Linked DNA regions of Homo sapiens: region 2 is linked to region 1. A link means that fine-mapping ties the variant in region 1 to the expression of a gene that starts in the linked region. Tissue or cell type: whole blood. Region 1 holds a variant in brackets; the other region holds the start of a gene. All regions are shown on one strand. Distances are from middle to middle.

What was found. PIP is the estimated chance that this variant, and not a neighbour inherited with it, causes the effect.
Region 2: it holds the start of AP3S1, and the variant in region 1 is fine-mapped to the expression of AP3S1 in whole blood (TOPMed, PIP above 0.99).

What each region holds. Positions count from the first base shown.
Region 1 is chr5:115,896,798-115,899,645 of GRCh38, forward strand. All of the region lies in intron 4 of AP3S1 (adaptor related protein complex 3 subunit sigma 1), which reads left to right. Among named protein-coding and RNA genes, the nearest start is that of AP3S1, 56 kb to the left of the region's middle. The variant C/T (reference allele first, on the strand shown) is at 1,211.
Region 2 is chr5:115,840,421-115,843,094 of GRCh38, forward strand. AP3S1 (adaptor related protein complex 3 subunit sigma 1) reads left to right here and starts at 1,515. Exons shown (of 6, transcript NM_001284.4): 1 at 1,515-1,686. The coding sequence starts at 1,618. It overlaps ATG12 (autophagy related 12), which reads right to left and starts at 1,145. Exons shown (of 4, transcript NM_004707.4): 1 at 970-1,145. The coding sequence starts at 1,132. RefSeq lists enhancers at 8-508, 512-1,413, 802-1,101, 1,112-1,161, 2,152-2,361 and silencers at 1,392-1,771, 1,872-2,061.

The DNA of each region.
Region 1 (2,848 bases):
TGTTTTGGTACATGATTAAAATTTTTAGAAAGCTGTGTTTTAAAATGACTGCTGAGAGGTCATCATTAGCTTATGTAAATACATTTACCATCTTTTAAGAAAATTGAGGACTCTCTTGTGAAATGTGATGGTAAGAGTAAGGTTCTTATATTTTTTTTACTAGAGAAAGAGAATAAAAGTTTTTAAGGAAATTAAGCTGTACTCATCTGCAACTTCCATACATGACACAAAATGTTTTTAAAACTTCTATTTCTCATTAGTATGCATTCATTTTAGAAAAATCAGAAAATACAGAGAGAAAAATATGTGAAAATCATCCCTATCCCAGAGATTGCCTAGTGTTAACATTTTAGAATATGTATAGTACTTGATTTTACATCTTTAAAACAAATAATCTTTAAACAAATACATCTTTAAAACAATAAAGATGGGATCATACAATATGTATTTTGTGTTAGCCTGTTCATTTTACACAACACTATATCACTATTTTAGAACCTGCCAAAATTAGCTGTCTCTCTTTTCTCTGGGCTAAGATCTTGTTTTATTTTTTCAAGGCAAGGAGACAAAAGTTTTAGGATACCAAAAGACAGAGATCAAATAAGTGTTTCCTTTCTATTCGCCAAGACAATGCTAACTTTGCTTTCAGCCCTTTGATGAAAATTATTTTCAACTTAAAAATATAGATATATTTTTTTAAATTTCAACTTTTAAGCAGCTCTGGACCTTCCAGCAGTAGGGATCTTCTGACTGGCTCAGCTCACATTTTCTTTTTTTTTTCTGAGATGGAGTCTCGCTCTGTCACCCAGGCTGGAGTGTAGTGGCGATCTCGGCTTAATGCAAGCTCCACCTCCCAGGTTCACTCCATTCTCCTGCCTCAGCCTCCCGAGTAGCTGGGACTACAGGCACCCGCCACCACGCCTGGCTAATTTTTTTGTATTTTTTTAGTAGAGATGGTATTTCACGGTGTTAGCCAGGATGGTCTCGATCTCCTGACCTCGTGATCTGCCTGCCTCGGCCTCCCAAAGTGCTGGGATTGCAGGTGTGAGCCACCACGCCCGGCCACAGCTCACATTTTCTTAAAGGCAAGACATAGGGAGGTTTGCACACAACCCTCAGACTGCTTCTGGGTCACAACTGAGTAGATGAAAAGAGAAAGTTGTAGAGAATATCCCTTTTGTTATCAGTCAGGATGAGCTAATTTATGCTG[C/T]AGTAGCGAACATGGAAATGTTAGCCACTTAAAACAAAAAAGGGTTATTTCCCATTCACGCAGTATGTTTATCATATTCCACATGCTGTCATTTTGGGATCCATGGTAACAAAGCTGCCACTATCCAGAACATTGTTAGTTTCTATGTCAGAGAGAAAAAAAGTTTTCATTGGGTAAATTTATCTGCTTTTCAGGGTATCACAGATGATAATTGTACCAAGTATTTTGCCACTACAAACATGGATCAGTAACTTTCCAGCCTCCAATGTAACAGTTTCTATGTGGCCAGCTGCCCAACCTGTAAACCACTGTCACACATTTTCTTTTATTGTGGTTGTTACTAGTTTCTTTTTATAAATCTTTACATGCTAATAACTGTATCAATCACATAGGCTAGTGTAGTCACCCTGAAGTAGTGGGACAGACCCACCCCTACTCACAATTGGTTTGGATGTAGAGACTAACAATGTCACAGGTGCCCCAAGAGGATAGGAAAAGATTTATTACTCACATAATGAGGCTTTCTGGAGAAAACAGAGAACAACACGGGGCTTGGGTTTTATGGTGGTTTGGTGGTGGGGATGGGGTGTGAGGATTTCTGCATGTGGGCCAGGTCTTAGGTAGTCTGAACTTTCCACTAGTGTAAAGGAAGGAGCATCCAGACCTTCTTAACAGCTTGCCCAGATATGGGGCAGAAGAGGAATGGGGACTAGTAGAACTTGAAGGCTGTGAGCAGACACACATCAAAAATGGAGTCAGACCCTTTATCACATACAGCTAAGGTATGCTGTGGTTATTACCCCTAAAATCCTAAAATATGAATCATTCAGTTTGTTTCTTACTTACACTATATGTTTATTGTGGATTTGCTGGGGGAGCTGCTGAGTTATCTGCCCATTTCCTGTATAGTGTGGCTCCAATTGGGTGGCCCCGTGTTGTTGCCCATATTGGAAGAAAGCATCAAAATCCAGGGCAAAATGAGAGAGCTAAAGATTCTGTGCAGGGCTTGGTTTGGAGGATGTATGACTTTGAGAATGACAGCTGTTAATATACTCTATTCTCCTCTCTGCATTCCCCCACTTGCCTCCACAAGTGATTAGGGTAGAGATCTGATCGGAGGCCTGTGTCTTTCATACCCTTGAGGCTGAGAGAATAAAGACTTAAGAGCAGAGTGCTTTCTTCCAACCTGGTCCCTCTTGAGGATTTGGACAGCCTGGTCTTTAACCACAGGCACAGAACGAGAGACTCCTTTTACTTTCACCAAATAAAGGAGCTACTAGCCATTAATAACATCTTGGAAGCCAGCCCTGAGCACAGTAAGCCAATAGAAAGAAAGCACTGCCATCTGAACAAGAGAGATTAACAGATTGAACAATCAGAAATTACGCTCCATGGAAAAGAACTACTGGAGAAGATAGAGTAACACTTGAAATTTTATAATTTTAAAATTTATTTATTTTGGTATGGCTGGGGTCTTGCTGTGTTGCCCAGGCTGGTCTTGAACTCCTGACCTCAAGTGATCCTCCTGCCTTGGCCTCCCAAAGCATTGAGATTACAGGTGTGAGCCACCACCTGGCCTCACTTGAAATTTTAAAATGATTTTAAAAGTACTTAAGATTTGGAAAAGTCTTCTTGGGC
Region 2 (2,674 bases), 56 kb before region 1:
CCGAGTAGCTGGGATTACAGGCGCGCGCCACCACACCCATCTAACTTTTATATTTTTAGTAGAGATGGAGTCTTACCATGTTGGCCAGGCTGGTCTCGAACTCTTGACCTCAGGTGATCCACCCGCCTCAGCCTACCAAAGTGCTGGGATTACAGGAGTGAGCCACCGCGCCCGGCCAGAGACCACTGTCATCTTAAGACAGAACGGGGAAAACGTCTAAGGACGAAATCAGCCTCTCTGAATCGAGGATGCTTATATGCTGCTTTTCCCATAGGCAACTCTAACTCTAAACAGAGTGCTTTAGAACACGTAATTTTAGCAATCTCTTTTACAAAGGGAAACATTCTCAAGCAATAAAGGGTTGAGGATAGCTGACTCAAGCAATGAAATAACTCACAAAGGTTCCAAAATGTGTTTCTTAAAAAGGTAACATCTATGCCTTTAGCTTTCCCTTAGCAGTCTTCATTCTGCATAAGAATTTGGTTTTTGGTTTAAGGAGTGAATTCACAACCAACTGGGAGGGGGAAAAAAGCAAAAGCGAGTTAAGTTGGAAGGCATGAATTCTAATCCAGGCTTTGCCAATGACCACCCCTACCACCATAAAACATTACTCAAATAATTAGCTCCTGTGTTAAGTACCTGGAATTACCGAGACCCCCCTCCCCCCGCCCCACTCAGCTCCCTCCCTCCTTCAAAGAGCTCGCAGTCTGGCCAACTCAAAAAAATACAGTATAAAAATAAGTGTGGCAGCCAAGTATCAGGCCCTACACCGATAGACAGAGATGGTATTTTAACACTCAACTTAAAGGCCTTAAAAATCAAAAAGTACACTTCTTTTCTTCTGATGACTGGTCAAAATGCAGGTCTAGGACAGGCGCTCCTCTAAATTTTGCTTCTTTACTGGCCGCCACCCCTACTCGGATGCAATCTGAACCTCCCGCCTCTCTGCCCGGAAATAAATTCAGTTACTTTTTTTCTTGGTGTCGCCAGCAGGTTCCTCTGTTCCCGGGGAAACTGCAGCGGAAGACGGGGGCTCCGGGGTGGTTGTTTCTGGGGAGACATCCGTAAGTCCTTCCCCTCCAGCAGCAATTGAAGTAGGAAGCTGCAACACAGACTGCGGCTCCTCCGCCATCTTGCTTGGAGACACTCGAGAGCGGAAGTAGCGACTGAGCGCGTGCAGTGGGCGTGCTTTTCTCCAGGGAGCGTCGCAAAGGAGGCGCCGGAGTAGGGGGACGCAATTACACAGTGAAACTTGGTGTTCCCGGCTAGTCATTCAAATCGAAGCTGTCGCAGACCTCTGAACGTTAGTAACGCAACATGTGTTTCTCCGCGACTACAGACCTCGGGAGAGGAGCGGTGGGCAACGTGTCTGTGCTCGGTCGAATGCGCACACTCCAGTTAGGCCGCTGGCTCGGACCTAGAAATGTTTCCGCTTTCCTTAGTGCCTGCCCCGCCCAGGCCCCGCCCCTTGGGCCCCGCCCGACGGCTCGGGAGCGCGCGCGGTCGCGTGCGGGAGGGGGCGGGTGGGGAAGGATCGCAGGCGAGATTACGAGGCGAGGCTCGCGCGCCCGCCCCCGCCCTGGCCCCCAGTGCCCACCCGGTCGGCCCGGCACAGCCATGATCAAGGCGATCCTAATCTTCAACAACCACGGGAAGCCGCGGCTCTCCAAGTTCTACCAGCCCTACGTGAGTATCCAGCCGCCGCTGATCCGGGCGAGGGGGAGTCGTTGGCGACGGGCAGCGCCCAGCGCGGCTTTCTCAGAGCGACCCCCTCCGGCGCGCTGCGGCCCTTGTCCCGTCCCGGCCGCCTGGCGCTCGCCAGCTGTCAGCCTCCTGGTGGGTGTGGACAGGGTGCCCACCTCCCTGCCGCGCGGTCAGCCACCGACGTGGCTTTGCCCGGGCGGTTCCTCCGCCCGTCGGTGGGCTGCATGCTTTCCTGGCTGCGCGGGCGAGGCCCTGGAGACTTCCCGGGGCCCGGCCCTCGCCGATCGGGCAGCCGCAGCCCAGCCGCGCCGCGGAGCCCTGCGCCCAGTCCCCAAGAGCCCACCCCGCGCGGCTGCCTTCCTGCCGCCCGCGGCTGCAGTTAGCCCGGGAGGAGGAAGACGGCGTGGAACTCGTTCTTCTCGCCCCCCTCCGCCGACTCCCATCCTTTCCAGGTGGACTTCTTTCTGTTCTTTGGACAGATGGGCTACCGTTTTTCACTGTGGTCCTCTCATAGCACAGGAACTTTGGCTTCCTGCGTTTGATAACTGCACGTTCTGTACAGTCTCTCTTCTGCATGTTTCGATACGTGACAGACTGCCCAGTGTGACTTTCAGGTGTCTCCTTATTGAAAAGGAAGATATGTGAGGACCTAATATTTTTATCAGGCTTTTTACCAGCTGGCTGCAAATTATTTACCCTCGAAGTAACCGGCGACGTTTGTAGTTGACTGATTGGAGCTGTGGTTCTATACCTAAAAGTTATGATTTCAGCTTCTGGTTTGGCATTTTTCCACGTATGGGAATTTGCCCTCATTTATAGTTTTTTTCTATTTATGAAGAATAGTAGCATTTGTAGAACTTCTCTTTTAACGTGTAAATACTGTTTAGTATGGACAAGTGCAGGAGGCATTAAGGTAGTAGAGATAAGTGATTTGTTGATGATCGAGGAAGGGTTTTATAGAGTTATGTGC